Linked DNA regions of Homo sapiens: region 2 is linked to region 1. Evidence: fine-mapped expression QTL. A gene starts in region 1. The other region holds a variant in brackets. All regions are shown on one strand. Distances are from middle to middle. Region 1 holds the start of H3C2 (H3 clustered histone 2). Region 2 overlaps HFE (homeostatic iron regulator).

What was found. PIP is the estimated chance that this variant, and not a neighbour inherited with it, causes the effect.
Region 2: its variant is fine-mapped to the expression of H3C2 in whole blood (INTERVAL, PIP above 0.99).

The regions. Positions count from the first base shown.
Region 1 is chr6:26,029,886-26,035,264 of GRCh38, forward strand. H3C2 (H3 clustered histone 2) reads right to left here and starts at 2,214. Exons shown (of 1, transcript NM_003537.4): 1 at 1,704-2,214. The coding sequence starts at 2,175. The coding sequence ends at 1,765. It overlaps H2AC4 (H2A clustered histone 4), which reads right to left and starts at 3,733. Exons shown (of 1, transcript NM_003513.3): 1 at 3,207-3,733. The coding sequence starts at 3,683. The coding sequence ends at 3,291. RefSeq lists enhancers at 1,851-2,080, 2,121-2,240, 3,178-3,807, 4,111-4,170, 4,211-4,260 and 1 more and a silencer at 3,591-3,690.
Region 2 is chr6:26,087,987-26,093,365 of GRCh38, forward strand. HFE (homeostatic iron regulator) reads left to right here. Exons shown (of 6, transcript NM_000410.4): 2 at 2,855-3,118; 3 at 3,328-3,603; 4 at 4,699-4,974; 5 at 5,133-5,246. It also overlaps HFE-AS1. Among named protein-coding and RNA genes, the nearest start is that of HFE, 3.2 kb to the left of the region's middle. The variant T/C (reference allele first, on the strand shown) is at 2,238.

The DNA of each region.
Region 1 (5,379 bases):
AAATGCTCAATAAATTTTCTTTCACAAATGAGAATTTCATCCATTCGTTAATTTTTAAATATCAACTGTCAATGAAGAGTTACAGCAGAATCCTTGTTCTGTTGAGGAGGGGGCAAAGAATGTAAGTGAGGGAGTGGAAAATAGCTGGACTGAGCTACCACCCCCTGTCCATCTGATCCTCAGACAGTAATGTAACTTTATTCTTTTATGCTATTCGTCAGACCCAGTACCTCCAACACATTTGTTTCCTACAGATAAAGAAAATATAAAAAGTCAAGCGCTATACATCAGATCCAGCACATCTATAACTGGAAAAAAAATACTTGACCTTCAGCTGGGCCCAGAGCTTGTGAGTAGTCACCTTGGCATAGACCAAGTCCATTGGCATCTCTAACATATCTATACTGTCTGTGGATAACAAATGTCTATGCCAGTTAGAGTCGCTTGTATAAGAGTCAAGAAAAACGAATCATAAAACAAACTGACATATTCATTTTCATAATTTTTAAAATGCAAATATTACTTTATAAACCAAAAACTGCCTTATTAAAAGCTGGAACACAAATGAATTTAAGTAAACGATGCAATTCAAATTTAATCTTTTGTGTGTGTGATTTGTTGTTGTTGACAGTTGGTCAGGCGATTTTAGTATGGTACATCAGTTTACATTCTAGATGTAGGCCAAGAAAGAATGTTAGGTGTAAAAAATATTTATTGTAAAAAAGAATGTGAGGCAAGGTCTTTGGAATTAGTAGTTTTAATGTTGGACATTCTGTGGTTGTTCTAAAGTTAGTCTGTAAAATGTGATGTAAAAGCTATATGATAAAAAAATACAAAATATAAAAATTTTAAAGTAAATATTACTTTTGTTTGCGTACAGTATTCCCATCCCTCTAAATTTTCTTCCAGTACTCAATCCCCAACCTCCAAAACCGAAAAGCAAGATCAACAGAAAGAAAATGGTTAAAACTTGTAAATTCTAGATTTTAATAACTACAGGCAAGAAGTACTGAAAAAAAGAATGTGGCATGTCATGGTGCATAGTCCTAGAGGAGACAAAGCAATGCAACCAGATAGACTATTTACAAGCAAAGCCACACATATAAAAATTCATATATAAGGGATTAAATTATGCTTGGTCGACAGACTGACAGATTTAAAGTGGGTAGCTAGCTATGGATAAAATGAGAGCCAGTTAGATCCCTGCCTCACATTTTGCACCAGAATAAATTTCAGGTTAATGTTAACAGCCAAATGAATTTAACAGTATATATATATATATATATATATATAATATATGAGAAAACCTAGGGGACTATGTATTGAGCTGAGAAAATCTTCCTAAGCATTTTGAGGAAGACACTGGAACTCGCAAGACACAATTTTCTAATCTTTTCAAAGCTTTGCAAAAATGCCTAGTAAGCGCCAGTTAACTACTTACCAGATTTTTCCCTTACTCTTACAAAGTTGTTTAAACAAATGCTAATCATAGCAAGCTAGAGGCCTGAATGATAGTGGACTTACACAGCTTCTCTCCAAATAGCACCTTAATAAGGTCAGAAATAACCTACACTGCAAGACTGACCAAACCGTTATTTCTGTTAATCAACTTTAAGACCATAGTCTAATGCTTTCCGGGGGGGTCCTTAGAAATTTGTTCTGTTAAGACAACAAAAAATTATCACAGCTACTTTCGTTGGAATAAGTGGGTGGCTCTGAAAAGAGCCTTTGGGTTTTAAGACTGATGAAAAAGTGACTTTACATTTACGCTCTTTCTCCGCGAATGCGGCGAGCGAGCTGGATGTCTTTGGGCATAATAGTCACTCGCTTAGCATGGATGGCGCAAAGGTTTGTGTCCTCAAAGAGCCCTACCAAGTAGGCCTCACAAGCCTCCTGCAGCGCCATCACCGCAGAGCTCTGGAAGCGAAGATCGGTCTTGAAGTCTTGGGCGATTTCTCGCACCAGGCGCTGGAACGGCAGCTTCCGAATCAGCAACTCGGTCGACTTTTGGTAGCGGCGGATCTCGCGCAGAGCCACAGTGCCCGGGCGGTAACGGTGAGGCTTTTTCACGCCGCCGGTAGCCGGCGCGCTCTTGCGAGCAGCCTTGGTAGCCAGCTGCTTGCGTGGCGCTTTACCGCCGGTGGATTTCCGAGCTGTCTGTTTAGTACGAGCCATGGCAAAACCACAGAAAAGCTTGCCTGCAGAGACGTCTGTGGAGGAAAGGAAAGAGCTACTCTTCTTTTATAGAGTCAGACCACCAACTATTGGACCCAAGAAAATTCAAAAATCCCCGCGCCCTTCTTGGATTGGTCCATCTCTGTGCCTGGTTGCAGATTAAGAGAGGCTCCTGCCCATTACCGTAGCTACTCTGACGTCATTTTGTTAACCCCTTAGCTGCTATATCCACTGTGGACAAGTCTTGTACTGGAAAAGTTTCCTGAAGTCTTAAAATTTACAACCACACAAAGCAACGCGGAAACCTCCAATTGTTTCTAGTTAAAATATAAAAAAGAAATCAGAGAATATTGGAGACGATTAGGGAAATTTGCATATGCGCTTTATTTAAAATTGTATTTTTCTGGGTGTCGCATAAGAAGTGTGGGCAATTAGAAAAATGCTCTTAGCCGGGCGTGGCGGCTCTCGCCTGTAATCCCAGCTACTCAGAAGGCTGTCAAGAGGATCGCTTGAGCCCGAGTTCGAGGTTACAGTGAGCTGTTATCACGCCGCTGCACTGCAGCTTGGGCGAGAGGGAGACTCCACCCCAAAACAAAGCAAAACATCCCCAAACTGGAAAAAAGCTCATTTTGGGAAATACATACTCAAATGTTCAGTGGTAATGTGTGTGCTCTCAATTGTGTATGCCATTAATTGCTACAGCAAATGGTATGACATATTCAAACTTGTGTGGGGCATGCGGGTTTTAACACTTCCATTCAAGATAGTTAGGAATGCACTCATGGGTATAATTTCCTTCCTCTAAAATGTAGTAACTGCTGTGTGTGAAACTTAACGCGAATCACCCCTGTAAACATGTTTTGTGCTGCATGGCACTTCTCCCACATACCTAGAATTCCTGAGGTTTCTATGGATCTAATTTCTGCAGGACAAATTACTAAAAGTGCCACACTCAAAGCCATTAAAAACACCTCAAAAACATCTTTATGGGCGGCATAATCCAAAGCACAACAGCTCATTTAATGGAAGTCGTAGGTGGCTCTGAAAAGAGCCTTTGCTGTTAGGCTGATTTTGTCTGCTGACAGAAAAACAGCAGTGCATGAAGCGTTAACTCTTCACTTTCCCTTGGCCTTATGATGGCTCTCAGTTTTCTTAGGCAGCAGCACCGCCTGAATATTAGGCAAAACGCCACCCTGCGCGATGGTCACACGCCCCAAGAGTTTATTAAGCTCCTCGTCATTGCGGATGGCCAATTGCAGGTGGCGCGGGATGATGCGGGTCTTCTTGTTGTCGCGGGCCGCATTGCCCGCCAGCTCCAGGATCTCGGCGGTCAGGTACTCAAGCACCGCCGCGAGATACACCGGCGCGCCAGCCCCGACGCGCTCGGAGTAGTTGCCTTTGCGGAGCAGGCGGTGCACTCGGCCCACAGGAAACTGCAAACCTGCACGAGAAGACCGAGTCTTAGCCTTGGCGCGAGCTTTACCGCCTTGTTTGCCGCGACCAGACATAACTACTTCTGATAAGGGAAAATCGCCACAAGAAAATGTAATGAAACTACATTAGAACGCAAGGCAGAGAAGTATTTATACTGACTGGAGGTAGGCTGTGAGGAATTCTCCCATTGGCTAATGTCAAATACCCAATGGGAAATCAGAATCTGCATCCTTCATTTGCATGTAATCCTTCCGTCTGGTGTAAGGTTTATGTTTGACCCAATCCCCAGTCTGGCTTGACGAGCCTTCGACTTGAATACTAATAATAATTGGCCGAATTAGGATTTTGTCAAAATACCTTTTTTAAGCATGAGTGGAGGTTTTGTTCTGGTTATTTTGACTTTCAGCCGCTCGTGCTTTTCCCGGATTGTGACTCATGTTTTTGGAAAGGAGTGGACTCCGACCAATTTCTAAATAGATATTTAAGAGGTCCTTCAAATCGGGCGCAGTGGCTCATGCCCGTAATACCAGCACTTTGGGAGGCCGAGGACGGCGGGTCAGGCGTTCGAGACCAGCGTGGACAACATGGAGAAACCCTGTCTCCAGTAAAATAACCAAAAAAGAAACGGGGGAGAAAAAGAAAAAAAAAAGCCGGGCTTGGTAGTGCACGCCTGTAGTTCCAGTTACTCGAGAAGCTGAGGTGGGAGGATCGCTTGAACCCGAGAGGAGGAGGTTGCAGTGAGTTCACATAGAGCCACCACACTCCAGCGTGGGCGACAGAGCCAGAAGACTGTGTCTCAAAGACAAAAAAAGGGGAGGGGGAGTGGGAGGGAAGAAAAGCGAATACCCCAAATCCCAGTGAACTGTAGAAGCTTATAAGCTCTCTTGATTCATAAGGGAGAAAGAAGGGGGATGTAGGCAACTTAGGGGAGAGTATATGATTTTGGAGAAAAATAAATGGGTGTTTCAAAGAATAGGTGACAGCTGTGACAAAGTCTGTTTAGATGGTGTTAACCACCAGTCTCCTCTCCTGTGATACAGTTAATCTTCTCTGGTTGATGAGATTCCCCAGGGAAGTGAATCTTAACAACTAAATTCCTTTTTGAATTTTTTTTTAATTTTCAAATTTTTGATTAGAGTTCAGCGAAAGCCCTTCCTTGAATTTACTGTTTCCTAGGTGCCCTCAGTTCAAAGAAATCAGCGTAACAAAGTGGCACATTTTTGAGTTGCATTTCCTGAACTTTTTCACAACACTGAATGAGGAGTCTCTGGAATCTTTCAGGAAATGAGAGAACAAACATTCCATAACACAGAAATACTCAAAATGGGATTATGATTATAAAAGTGTTTCACTGACCACCTTCTGCCTTCCTGTCTGTAAGTCCCATTCTCCCCAAAGTCTAGCCATAGAAACCAGAATTCCTCCTCAAGGTAGGCCATACAAACCAGAACTCCTTTTCCCTAGAACCAGCCATAAAACCTAAAAGTATTACTCTAACCTACCTTGTTTGCCTGTAGGTCATAAGACCCCCCATTCTAAAAGAGAGTCTTGTCCTATAACCAGAAGGAAGAAATGCTGCACTGAGAGGTCAAGAAGAATCTTGACAGACAAGCCTTGCGGGGCTTCCCCACTCAGTCTGTTAGCATTAGATCGTACCCTATACAGCTGTTTATCTTGTTGAACCTAAGCATAAAAATGGGCAATTTCCCCTGTATCTTTCAGTCTTAATTCTAAAATCTCCTGTAAAATTGTGATGAAATAAATATATAT
Region 2 (5,379 bases), 58 kb after region 1:
CACCTCAGAACGAATGCGTTGGGCGGTGGGGGCGCGAAAGAGTGGCGTTGGGGATCTGAATTCTTCACCATTCCACCCACTTTTGGTGAGACCTGGGGTGGAGGTCTCTAGGGTGGGAGGCTCCTGAGAGAGGCCTACCTCGGGCCTTTCCCCACTCTTGGCAATTGTTCTTTTGCCTGGAAAATTAAGTATATGTTAGTTTTGAACGTTTGAACTGAACAATTCTCTTTTCGGCTAGGCTTTATTGATTTGCAATGTGCTGTGTAATTAAGAGGCCTCTCTACAAAGTACTGATAATGAACATGTAAGCAATGCACTCACTTCTAAGTTACATTCATATCTGATCTTATTTGATTTTCACTAGGCATAGGGAGGTAGGAGCTAATAATACGTTTATTTTACTAGAAGTTAACTGGAATTCAGATTATATAACTCTTTTCAGGTTACAAAGAACATAAATAATCTGGTTTTCTGATGTTATTTCAAGTACTACAGCTGCTTCTAATCTTAGTTGACAGTGATTTTGCCCTGTAGTGTAGCACAGTGTTCTGTGGGTCACACGCCGGCCTCAGCACAGCACTTTGAGTTTTGGTACTACGTGTATCCACATTTTACACATGACAAGAATGAGGCATGGCACGGCCTGCTTCCTGGCAAATTTATTCAATGGTACACTGGGCTTTGGTGGCAGAGCTCATGTCTCCACTTCATAGCTATGATTCTTAAACATCACACTGCATTAGAGGTTGAATAATAAAATTTCATGTTGAGCAGAAATATTCATTGTTTACAAGTGTAAATGAGTCCCAGCCATGTGTTGCACTGTTCAAGCCCCAAGGGAGAGAGCAGGGAAACAAGTCTTTACCCTTTGATATTTTGCATTCTAGTGGGAGAGATGACAATAAGCAAATGAGCAGAAAGATATACAACATCAGGAAATCATGGGTGTTGTGAGAAGCAGAGAAGTCAGGGCAAGTCACTCTGGGGCTGACACTTGAGCAGAGACATGAAGGAAATAAGAATGATATTGACTGGGAGCAGTATTTCCCAGGCAAACTGAGTGGGCCTGGCAAGTTGGATTAAAAAGCGGGTTTTCTCAGCACTACTCATGTGTGTGTGTGTGGGGGGGGGGGGCGGCGTGGGGGTGGGAAGGGGGACTACCATCTGCATGTAGGATGTCTAGCAGTATCCTGTCCTCCCTACTCACTAGGTGCTAGGAGCACTCCCCCAGTCTTGACAACCAAAAATGTCTCTAAACTTTGCCACATGTCACCTAGTAGACAAACTCCTGGTTAAGAAGCTCGGGTTGAAAAAAATAAACAAGTAGTGCTGGGGAGTAGAGGCCAAGAAGTAGGTAATGGGCTCAGAAGAGGAGCCACAAACAAGGTTGTGCAGGCGCCTGTAGGCTGTGGTGTGAATTCTAGCCAAGGAGTAACAGTGATCTGTCACAGGCTTTTAAAAGATTGCTCTGGCTGCTATGTGGAAAGCAGAATGAAGGGAGCAACAGTAAAAGCAGGGAGCCCAGCCAGGAAGCTGTTACACAGTCCAGGCAAGAGGTAGTGGAGTGGGCTGGGTGGGAACAGAAAAGGGAGTGACAAACCATTGTCTCCTGAATATATTCTGAAGGAAGTTGCTGAAGGATTCTATGTTGTGTGAGAGAAAGAGAAGAATTGGCTGGGTGTAGTAGCTCATGCCAAGGAGGAGGCCAAGGAGAGCAGATTCCTGAGCTCAGGAGTTCAAGACCAGCCTGGGCAACACAGCAAAACCCCTTCTCTACAAAAAATACAAAAATTAGCTGGGTGTGGTGGCATGCACCTGTGATCCTAGCTACTCGGGAGGCTGAGGTGGAGGGTATTGCTTGAGCCCAGGAAGTTGAGGCTGCAGTGAGCCATGACTGTGCCACTGTACTTCAGCCTAGGTGACAGAGCAAGACCCTGTCTCCCCTGACCCCCTGAAAAAGAGAAGAGTTAAAGTTGACTTTGTTCTTTATTTTAATTTTATTGGCCTGAGCAGTGGGGTAATTGGCAATGCCATTTCTGAGATGGTGAAGGCAGAGGAAAGAGCAGTTTGGGGTAAATCAAGGATCTGCATTTGGACATGTTAAGTTTGAGATTCCAGTCAGGCTTCCAAGTGGTGAGGCCACATAGGCAGTTCAGTGTAAGAATTCAGGACCAAGGCTGGGCACGGTGGCTCACTTCTGTAATCCCAGCACTTTGGTGGCTGAGGCAGGTAGATCA[T/C]TTGAGGTCAGGAGTTTGAGACAAGCTTGGCCAACATGGTGAAACCCCATGTCTACTAAAAATACAAAAATTAGCCTGGTGTGGTGGCGCACGCCTATAGTCCCAGGTTTTCAGGAGGCTTAGGTAGGAGAATCCCTTGAACCCAGGAGGTGCAGGTTGCAGTGAGCTGAGATTGTGCCACTGCACTCCAGCCTGGGTGATAGAGTGAGACTCTGTCTCAAAAAAAAAAAAAAAAAAAAAAAAAAAAACTGAAGGAATTATTCCTCAGGATTTGGGTCTAATTTGCCCTGAGCACCAACTCCTGAGTTCAACTACCATGGCTAGACACACCTTAACATTTTCTAGAATCCACCAGCTTTAGTGGAGTCTGTCTAATCATGAGTATTGGAATAGGATCTGGGGGCAGTGAGGGGGTGGCAGCCACGTGTGGCAGAGAAAAGCACACAAGGAAAGAGCACCCAGGACTGTCATATGGAAGAAAGACAGGACTGCAACTCACCCTTCACAAAATGAGGACCAGACACAGCTGATGGTATGAGTTGATGCAGGTGTGTGGAGCCTCAACATCCTGCTCCCCTCCTACTACACATGGTTAAGGCCTGTTGCTCTGTCTCCAGGTTCACACTCTCTGCACTACCTCTTCATGGGTGCCTCAGAGCAGGACCTTGGTCTTTCCTTGTTTGAAGCTTTGGGCTACGTGGATGACCAGCTGTTCGTGTTCTATGATCATGAGAGTCGCCGTGTGGAGCCCCGAACTCCATGGGTTTCCAGTAGAATTTCAAGCCAGATGTGGCTGCAGCTGAGTCAGAGTCTGAAAGGGTGGGATCACATGTTCACTGTTGACTTCTGGACTATTATGGAAAATCACAACCACAGCAAGGGTATGTGGAGAGGGGGCCTCACCTTCCTGAGGTTGTCAGAGCTTTTCATCTTTTCATGCATCTTGAAGGAAACAGCTGGAAGTCTGAGGTCTTGTGGGAGCAGGGAAGAGGGAAGGAATTTGCTTCCTGAGATCATTTGGTCCTTGGGGATGGTGGAAATAGGGACCTATTCCTTTGGTTGCAGTTAACAAGGCTGGGGATTTTTCCAGAGTCCCACACCCTGCAGGTCATCCTGGGCTGTGAAATGCAAGAAGACAACAGTACCGAGGGCTACTGGAAGTACGGGTATGATGGGCAGGACCACCTTGAATTCTGCCCTGACACACTGGATTGGAGAGCAGCAGAACCCAGGGCCTGGCCCACCAAGCTGGAGTGGGAAAGGCACAAGATTCGGGCCAGGCAGAACAGGGCCTACCTGGAGAGGGACTGCCCTGCACAGCTGCAGCAGTTGCTGGAGCTGGGGAGAGGTGTTTTGGACCAACAAGGTATGGTGGAAACACACTTCTGCCCCTATACTCTAGTGGCAGAGTGGAGGAGGTTGCAGGGCACGGAATCCCTGGTTGGAGTTTCAGAGGTGGCTGAGGCTGTGTGCCTCTCCAAATTCTGGGAAGGGACTTTCTCAATCCTAGAGTCTCTACCTTATAATTGAGATGTATGAGACAGCCACAAGTCATGGGTTTAATTTCTTTTCTCCATGCATATGGCTCAAAGGGAAGTGTCTATGGCCCTTGCTTTTTATTTAACCAATAATCTTTTGTATATTTATACCTGTTAAAAATTCAGAAATGTCAAGGCCGGGCACGGTGGCTCACCCCTGTAATCCCAGCACTTTGGGAGGCCGAGGCGGGTGGTCACAAGGTCAGGAGTTTGAGACCAGCCTGACCAACATGGTGAAACCCGTCTCTAAAAAAATACAAAAATTAGCTGGTCACAGTCATGCGCACCTGTAGTCCCAGCTAATTGGAAGGCTGAGGCAGGAGCATCGCTTGAACCTGGGAAGCGGAAGTTGCACTGAGCCAAGATCGCGCCACTGCACTCCAGCCTAGGCAGCAGAGTGAGACTCCATCTTAAAAAAAAAAAAAAAAAAAAAAAGAGAATTCAGAGATCTCAGCTATCATATGAATACCAGGACAAAATATCAAGTGAGGCCACTTATCAGAGTAGAAGAATCCTTTAGGTTAAAAGTTTCTTTCATAGAACATAGCAATAATCACTGAAGCTACCTATCTTACAAGTCCGCTTCTTATAACAATGCCTCCTAGGTTGACCCAGGTGAAACTGACCATCTGTATTCAATCATTTTCAATGCACATAAAGGGCAATTTTATCTATCAGAACAAAGAACATGGGTAACAGATATGTATATTTACATGTGAGGAGAACAAGCTGATCTGACTGCTCTCCAAGTGACACTGTGTTAGAGTCCAATCTTAGGACACAAAATGGTGTCTCTCCTGTAGCTTGTTTTTTTCTGAAAAGGGTATTTCCTTCCTCCAACCTATAGAAGGAAGTGAAAGTTCCAGTCTTCCTGGCAAGGGTAAACAGATCCCCTCTCCTCATCCTTCCTCTTTCCTGTCAAGTGCCTCCTTTGGTGAAGGTGACACATCATGTGACCTCTTCAGTGACCACTCTACGGTGTCGGGCCTTGAACTACTACCCCCAGAACATCACCATGAAGTGGCTGAAGGATAAGCAGCCAATGGATGCCAAGGAGTTCGAACCTAAAGACGTATTGCCCAATGGGGATGGGACCTACCAGGGCTGGATAACCTTGGCTGTACCCCCTGGGGAAGAGCAGAGATATACGTGCCAGGTGGAGCACCCAGGCCTGGATCAGCCCCTCATTGTGATCTGGGGTATGTGACTGATGAGAGCCAGGAGCTGAGAAAATCTATTGGGGGTTGAGAGGAGTGCCTGAGGAGGTAATTATGGCAGTGAGATGAGGATCTGCTCTTTGTTAGGGGGTGGGCTGAGGGTGGCAATCAAAGGCTTTAACTTGCTTTTTCTGTTTTAGAGCCCTCACCGTCTGGCACCCTAGTCATTGGAGTCATCAGTGGAATTGCTGTTTTTGTCGTCATCTTGTTCATTGGAATTTTGTTCATAATATTAAGGAAGAGGCAGGGTTCAAGTGAGTAGGAACAAGGGGGAAGTCTCTTAGTACCTCTGCCCCAGGGCACAGTGGGAAGAGGGGCAGAGGGGATCTGGCATCCATGGGAAGCATTTTTCTCATTTATATTCTTTGGGGACACCAGCAGCTCCCT